2 separate regions of the Homo sapiens genome follow, and region 2 is reported to be linked to region 1. Evidence: microRNA targets listed by miRTarBase, many of them from high-throughput screens and not tested one by one. Region 1 holds a microRNA gene; the other region holds the end of a gene's coding sequence.

Region 1 (4,526 bases):
CTCCACAAAGGTGACACTCAAATTCACGACGGTCCCGTATTTATCTACGTATTTTTATTTGTTTTATTTATTTTTGAGACGGAATCTTGCTCTGTGGCCCAGGCTGGAATGCCATGGCTTCATTACAGCTCACTGAAATCGCCTCCTCCTGGGTTCAAGTGGTTCTCCTGTCTTGGCCTCCCGAGTAGCTGGAATCACAGATGTGCACCACCGCACCCAGCTAATTTTTGTAGTTTTAGTAGAGACAAGGCTTTGCCACGTTGGCCCCGTTGGTCTTGAACTCCTGACCTCAGGTGATCCTCCCGTCTTAGCCTCCTAAAGTGCTGGGATTACAGGCGTGTGCCGCTGTGCCTAGACTATTATTTACTTTGTTGACACTGAGACTCACTCAGTTGCCCAGGCTGGAATGCAGTGGCGCAATCTCAGCTCACTGAAAGCTCAGCCTCCTGGCTTCAAGCGAGTCTCCTGCCTCAGCCTCCCGAGTAGCTGGGATTACAGGTGTGTGCAACCAGGCCTGGCTGATTTTTGTATTTTTAGTATGGACGGGGTTTCACCATGTTGGCCAGGCCGGTCTCGAACAACTGACCTCAGGTGATCCTCCTGTCTCGGCCTCCCAAAGTGCTGGAATTATAGGCAGGAGCCACCATACCTGGACTAGTCCCATCATTAAAATTAGGGGGAAACAAAGATGCCCACACCTAAATAGCGTATCATTTATTGTTTAAGCACATCTCAAATACATTGTTTATCTAAAACACAAGTTTAACTGAGGGCCGGGACGAACCAAAAAATGGTCCTTACTTTCTTCCTGCCTGTGCATGGGTTAATATTTACATGTAGTCCCATCTAACAAGGCCTGGGAGGGGCAGAGGCAGGAGGATCTAAGACCACTTTAGCCAGGGCAGCATAGTGAGACCCCCGTCTCATGCATTTATCTCCTGGTCATGCACCCAAGATTTCAGCTTCATTTCCCCAATACACACTGAAGCCCCATGCACTCCACCTCCGTGCTCTTGCTCATCCCATCTGCAGGGACACTGAGGTCCCCTCAACTCCACCTGACCCCATGTGAGGTTCTATACCAGTGCCAGAAAAATTTCCATAAAGTAAGAGGTGTTGATGGCCACGCACCATGGCTCACGCCTTTGGGAGGCGCGCGGTGGTGGCTCATGCCTGTATTCTCAGCATTTTCGGAGGCCAAGGTGAGTGGCTCACTTGAGGTCAGGGGTTTGAGACCAGCCTGGCCAACATGGTAAGCCCCATCTCTACTGAAAAAAAAAAAAAAAAAAATTCAAAACGTAGCCAGGCGTGGTGGCGGCCACCTGTAGTTTCAGCTACTTCAGAGGCTGAGGCAGGAGAATTGCTTGAACCTGAGAGGCAGAGGTTGGAGTCAGTCGGGATCATGCCACCGCTCTCCAGCTGGGGAAACGAGACTCCATCTCAAAAATAAATAAATGAATAAAAAAGAAAAATACAAATATTAGCCAAGTGTGATGTCGGGCCCCTGCAATCCCAGCTATTCAGGAAGCTGAGGCAGGAGAATAGCTTGAACCCGCGAGGTGGAGATTGCAGTGAGCCAAGATCGTGCCACTGCACTCCAGCCTGGGTCACAGAGGAAGACTGTCCCAAAAAGGACCATATGAGCCCAAGAGACCTAGGTTGGAAGTGCCTCTGTACTCCAGCCTGGGCCACAGAGACCCTGTCTTAGAAAACAAAAACAAAACAGAACCCCAACATCATCCAAGTCTGATAATAAGCATGCAAATATATTACCAACATCAGCATCAACTTCAACACTGCTTTTCCCAAACGGTAACACTCTAAAGGGAAGCACTTTGTTTTTTCTCAGACAACAAACAGAAAGTGCTTCCTCTAGAGGGTCACAGCATGGGATCTTCTTGCTCCAGCACTCTGGGTTTCTTGTTGGAATTTTCCTTGACCAGGTTAAAACGGATACAAAAATAAAAATGCATTTATTGGCCCTGTTTACATGTTTTATGGAATCCAGAACATAAACCCCTGAAAGGACCATCTCCAATTCCTTGCTTCAAAGGCTCAGCAGGTTAGCCTTGTTCATCAAGGGGCGATCGTCCTGAGTTTTGTCCCCAAAGAGAAAAAGGAATACCTACTACTCATACCTTACATTTAGCTAAGAGAATTGGGCTGATGTTGAAGAATATACATTGTCTCACACACAAACATCCTCCAGGATAGACCAGAGTCTAGGCTGACTCTAGAGGACCACGTGAGATTAGGGGCGGTGGCTCACGCCTGTAATCCCAGCACTTTAGGAGGCCAAGGCTGGTGGATCACCTGAGGTCGGGAGTTTGAGACCAGCCTGCCCAACATGGTGAAACCCAGTCTCTATTCAAAACACAAAAATTAGCTGGGTGGGGCAGTAGGCACCTGTAATCCCAGCTACCCAGGAGGCTGCGGCAGGAGAATCGCTTGAACCCAGGAGGTGGAGGTTGCAGTGAGCCTAAATTGCAACACTGCACTCCAGCCTGGACATCAAGAGTGAAACTCCATCTCAACAACAACAACAACAATAAAAATAATAACTAGCAGGACACGATGGCGGGCATCTCTATTCCCAACTATTCGGCAGGCTGAGGTGGGAGAATCGCCGGAAGCTGGGAGGCGGAGTTTCCGGTCAACAGGGATCCTGCCGCTGCACTCCAGCCTGGGAAACGGAATGAGAGCGCATCTCAAAAAATCAAAAATAAAAAGATCACCACTTGAGCCCAAGAGATCTCGGTTGGAGGTGCCACCCACTCCCGCCTGGGCAACAGGGAACCTGTCTTGGAAAAAAACAAACCAAAGAGAACCCCAACATCATGCAAGTCTGATGATAAGCACGCTCTGCAAATGTATTACCAAGATCAGCAGCATCTTCAACGTTGCTTTTCTCAAACAGTAACACTCTAAAGGGATGCACGATCTTTTCTTAGACAACAGACAGTGCTTCCATCTAGAGGGTCACAGCATGAGGTCTTCTTGCTCCAGTACTGTAGGGTTCTTTTTTTTGTTTTTGTTTTTGTTTCTTTTTGACGGAGTCTTGCTCTGTTGCCGAGGCTAGAGTGCAATGGCACGATCTCGGCTCACTGCAAGCTCCGCCTCCTGGGTTCAAGCCATTCTCAAGCCTTAGCCTCCCGGGTAGCTGGGACTACAGGCACCCACCACCACGCCTCGCTAATTTTTTGTATTTTTAAATAGAGATGGGGTTTCACCGTGTTAGCCAGGATGGTCTCGATCTCCTGACCTCGTGATCCACCCGCCTCGGCCTTTCAAAGTGGTGGGATTACAGGCGTGAGCCACAGCGCCCAGCTTTTTTTTTTTTTTTTTTTTTTCAGACGGAATCTCACTCTGTCATCCTGGCTGGATGCTGTGGCACAATCTCGGCTCACTGCAGCCTCTGCCTCCCGGGTTCAAGCAATTCTCCTGCCTCAGCCTCCTAAGTAGCTGGGATTACAGGTGCCCACCACCACACTGGGCTAATTTTTGTTGTTATTGTATTTTTAGTAGAGACGGATTTTCACCACGTTGGTCAGACTGGTCTCAAACTCCTGACCTGAGATGATCTACCTGCATCGGCCTCCCAAAGTGCTGGGATTACAGGCATGAGCCACCATGCCCGGCTTTATTTTGTATTTTTATTCATTTGTTTATTTTTTGAGACAGAATTTCCCTGTGTTGCCCAGGCTGACCATTTGAAGCCAAGAGATATATTGGACATGTCACTGCACTCCAGCATGAGCAACACAGAGCCTTAGAATAAAAAAGCAAAACCAAAACAGAACCCCACCATCGTCCAAGTGTGATAAGCATGCTCTGCAAATGTATTACCGAAATCAGCATCAACTTCAACGTTGCTTTTCTCAAACCGTAACCCACCAAAGAGAAGCACTTTCTTTTCTTTTAGACAACAGAAAGGGCTTCCCTTTGTAGACTCACAGCTTGAGATCTTCTTGCTCCGGCACTCTGGGTTTCTTGTTGAAATTTTCCTTGACCTGGTCAAAATGGACACAAAAATAAAGATGCATTTATTGGTCCTGTTTGCATATTTTCTGGAATCTAGAACATAAACCGATACAAAGACCATCTCCAGTTCCTTGCTTCAAACGTTCAGCAGGTTAGCCTTGTTCATCGAGGGACAACTGTCCTGGGTTTTGTCTTCAAAGAGAAAAAGCAACGCCTACTACATATACCTTATATTCTCAGGAGTTAGACACCAGCCTGGGAAACATGGTAAAACCTCATCTGTAAAAATACAAAAGTTAGCCAGGTATAGAGGTGCATGCCTGTAGACACTAATTCAGGAGGCTGAGGTGGGAGGTTGAGGTTGCCGGGAGCCGAGATCACACCACTGCACTCCAGCATAGGTGACAGGGCCAGATCTTGTCTCAAAAACAAACGAACGAACAAACAAAAAATGCACACACCAACAAAAAAATGCCCAAAGTGATATAAGAGTATTCTCAGGGTGTAAAAGAGTCTTTTGTGTGTACATGATATTATATATATAA
Region 2 (4,046 bases), not on the chromosome of region 1:
CTCCCAGAGAGGAGCCTGGCTGGGCTGGCTTCTTTGTCCTCTCTCCTTTCCCCGCATGGGGCCCTGACTTTATTGTTTCCGCCCCTGCCGCCATCCTCCCTGTCCCAAGTTCCTCGTCTATCCCTACGGGATCCCCGCCCCCTTTCATGTTCTGACGTCCATTTTCTTTTGTCTCCATCCAGGATTCCCCTCTAAAGACCCTCATGTCCCACTATGAGGAGGCCATGGGACTGTCGGGACGGAAGCTCTCCTTCTTCTTTGATGGGACAAAGCTTTCAGGCAGGGAGCTGCCAGCTGACCTGGGCATGGAATCTGGGGACCTCATTGAGGTCTGGGGCTGACACCCCACTCCCTGTTTGACGGCCCAGCCTGGACTTGGGGAGAATGACTTTCCCTTTTTTGCCCCATAAGGGCTAGCATAAGCTGAGGTAGAACTTATCTTTAAGCTGCAGCAAAATCAAGGAGTGACTTTTGTCCCCTCTCCTGTTGACCCTGGTTTAGAGCCGTTAACCACTTGGTGAGTTATGTGGGTGTTGTTGCCCTGGGTGGCCTGTGGCTCCGTCCACAAGTCATGCTGAGTTTTGCAGCCTCTGTGACTTGGAGATGTCCCTTCACCCCTCCCCTTTCACCACCATCCTCTTTTCCTCATGGAAATGTCTGCTTTATGAAACTATGCACATATTGAAAGTGAGTTGAAACAAATGAGGGTTGGGTAGGAGCTTCCAGGCCTGGGATTTACACCACGCCTAGCCCAGCAGAGGCCTTAGTCCCATTTGGGGCTTGGGAGTGACATTTGCTTGAGGCTTATACACTGGTGTGGTTGCCTGGCTTGCAGGAAATGACCAAGCTCACACATGCTGGCTGAAGCGTAAGCAGACAACTGAGGTACTCTTTTGAAGGATGAAGGTGGTGGATTCTCAGCCCTGGGGGTCTTCCTCACCTGAGGACCCTTCAGAGCCACCCTTTCTAGTTTGCATTTCCTGGTGCACACATTTAAGGCATAACAGCACATTCATCCCTTTGGTTTGGGATCTCAGGAATACAGTCCCATGCAAAGATTCTCTGGTTTTATGGCTTTTTTCCCTTTCTTTACACCATCCTCTCCCATAAGCACCCATGTCTTTGAATATGAATGTATTTGTAAAATACCACGTTTCATGTGTGAATATGTGCTTTTACTGTACATAGTGCTATTGTGCAATAGGTCTTATGCTGTTTTCACTCAATGTGTGCTAAGATCTAGCCCCATTGACTCTTCTAGAAATGCAGTATTGCTTTGACCTGCCATGTGGCACTCCACAATGTCAATTGCAGTTTACACACATTGCCTAAAGTGGGGGACACCTGGGTGCCCCTGACCCCTTGGCACCGGATACAGGCCACGATAAACATCCTTTCGTGTGTTCCCTTCTGTGCTTGTGTGGCATGTGTACCCAGGATGGGCCTATAGGTCACAGAGGTCAGTTTCTCTTTGGTTTTCCAGATTTTCTTTAGAACGGTGACTGACCCTCCTACTTGAGGCCGCCCTTTTCTCCTTATCCTTGCCAGCACTTGTATTGCCAGACTACCTAATTTTTGCCAGTCTCATGGGTAGATAGTGGTGCAGTGCTTTAACATACATTCATCTGATCAGCATTAATTTGGGGAATTTTTTCACTTAGCCTTTCTGGTTTCCCTTCCTGTGCATTGCCCATTTTCTCATGGAGTTTCTTATCTTTTTTGGTTTATTCTCAGGAGTTGCTTGTACATTCTTGGGCAATTGCAGATAATTCCAAGAATGCATATTTGGGCTGGGTATGGAGGTTCACTGGTAATCCCAGCACTTTGGGAGGCCCAGGCAGAAGGATCGCTGCAGCCCAGGAGTTCGAGACTAGCCTGGGCAACATAGCGAGACCTCGTCTCTACAAAAAAAAATTAAAAAGGGGGCTTTGGGAGGCCAAGGCGGGCAGATCATGAGGGCAGGAGATTGAGACCCTCCTGGCCAACATGGTGAAACCCCGTCTCTACTAAAATACAAAAAATTAGCTGGGCATGGTGGCGCACACCTGTAGTCCCAGCTACTCTGGAGGCTGAGGCAGGGGAATCGCTTAAACCCAGGAGGCGGAGATTGCAGTGAGCCAAGGTTCCACCACTGCACTCCAGCCTGGCGACAGAGCAAGGCTCCACTCAAAAAAAAGATTTAAAGGGGAAAAAATTGAAATTTTCTTTGTATCTAGGGGTATCCGTCACTGAACAGAAATTCTTAATTTTGGCTAGGCGTGATGGCTCAGGTCTGTAATCCCAGCACTTTCGGTGGCCGGGGTGGGTGGATCACTTGAGGCCAGGAGTTCAAGACCACCCTGACCAACTTGGTGAAATCCCATCTCTACTAAAAATACAAAAATTAGCTGGGTGCAGTGGCGCATGCTTGTAATCCCAGCTACTCAGGAGGCAGAGGCAGGAGAATCACTTGAACCCGGGAGGTGGAGGCTGCAGTGAACAGAGACAGTGCCACTGCACATCAGCCTGAGTGACAGAGAGACTTTGTCTCAAAAAAAAAAGAAAATTTTAATTTTAATGTAGACAGTATGAATTATCTTGTTCTGCAGTTGGTTGCTTTTTGATTGCTTATTTAATAGAGTTGTTAAGATATTTTACATCTTCTCCTGTTAGCTGTTCAGCTTTTCCTTTCATATTGAGAACACTACACAGTGCTGAAGTCCAGCTGGTACACACCGGGGTGACACCTTGGCTGCATCTGTTCTCAACAGTCAGACACTTCTTCTAATTGGTTGATGCTGGGCTGTACTGGTTGCTAAATATTGCACATCATTTTAAAACTATTTGAGATGCACTTTTGTACTCAGGAGGCCAAGGCAGGAGGATTGCTTGAGCCCAGGAGTTTGAGACCAGCCTGGGCAACACAGCGAGACCTTGTCTCTTAAAAAAAAAAAAAAAAAAAAATGAGAGAAATCGGCTGGGCATGGTTTCTCATGCCTGTAATCCCAGAACTTTGGGAGGCTGAGGCAGGTGGATCACCGGAGGTTAGGAATTCAAGACTGAAACCTTGTCTCTACTGAAAATACAAAAAAAAAAAAAAAAAAAAATGAGCTAGGTGTGGTGGCAGGCGCCTGTAATCCCAGTTACTTCGGGAGGCTGAGGCAGGAGAATCGCTTGAACCCAGGAGGCAGAGGTTGCAGTGAGCCAAGATCGCGCCATTGCACTCCAGCCTGGGCGACAAGAGTGGAAACTCTGTCTCAAAAAAAAAAAAAAAAATTCAGTGAAATACACCTTTATATATGAGATCCAAGTTTCACTTTTTGTGATATAATGAGCCAGTTTTCTCAGTAATGTCTACTAAAAAAAAAGCCATTAACCTTTCTCTAATATTTGCATGATTCTAATAAAAGTATGTCAACTTCTTAAAATGTTTTATTGAAATGTGGCATTCCTTTGAATTTTATGACATTAAAATAATCCACGACATGGTACAGCTCTTCACTTTTTCAGCTTTTTAAATGTCCATTAATAAGTTTGAATACGTTAAAATTATATGTTTAACCTCAACAAAATAAATGGCAATATGTTCAACTTGTGTATACTGGAGGATTTTTGTCTTTGTGGCCCTCATGTGACCCCCACTAAGATCCTTGTGACAGAGACAGGAATAAGATCCTTATTCCTTCACATCCATTCTTCCTCCTTCTGTGGTACTAGAACCCATGGTTTTTAGCGAGGCACAGAGACACTCAGAATAAAAACAGTGGCCAGGCATGGGGGCACACACCTGGAATCTACCTAGCACCCTGGGAGGCTGACGTGGGAGGATCGCTTGAACCCAGGAGGTTGAGGTTGCAGTGAGCTATGGTTGTGCCAACCCACTCCAGCCTGGGCAACAATCAAGACCCTGTCTCAAAAAAAAAAAAAAATTAAGACAGTACTTCCTGGCTTCCACTGTAGCTAGATGTAGCCAAGTGCCAATACAGGCTCCTGGGGTGTAAGTGGAATGGGGTATCACTTCCCAGAAGTGTGCATAGCGGGCAGCTTGTCCCCTCTCTTTCACTTGC

What was found. The annotated mature microRNA hsa-miR-520h reads ACAAAGUGCUUCCCUUUAGAGU and lies in region 1 at 1,818-1,839, opposite strand. An mRNA with a match to its seed (bases 2 to 7 or 8) in the 3' UTR can be bound and repressed. Matches are read on the target gene's strand: a 7mer-m8 pairs with bases 2 to 8, a 7mer-A1 pairs with bases 2 to 7 and ends in A, and an 8mer does both.
Region 2: the mRNA of NFATC2IP is a reported target of hsa-miR-520h. Seed matches in the 3' UTR shown: 7mer-m8 at 1,821-1,827.

Annotation. Positions count from the first base shown.
Region 1 is chr19:53,719,533-53,724,058 of GRCh38, reverse strand. MIR520G (microRNA 520g) reads right to left here and starts at 1,893; the gene lies at 1,804-1,893. MIR520D (microRNA 520d) reads right to left here and starts at 3,963; the gene lies at 3,877-3,963. It overlaps MIR517B (microRNA 517b), which reads right to left and starts at 2,983; the gene lies at 2,917-2,983.
Region 2 is chr16:28,963,523-28,967,568 of GRCh38, forward strand. It overlaps NFATC2IP (nuclear factor of activated T cells 2 interacting protein), which reads left to right. Exons shown (of 8, transcript NM_032815.4): 8 at 183-3,570. The coding sequence ends at 341. It overlaps NFATC2IP-AS1 (NFATC2IP antisense RNA 1), which reads right to left and starts at 2,922. Exons shown (of 2, transcript NR_186408.1): 1 at 2,894-2,922.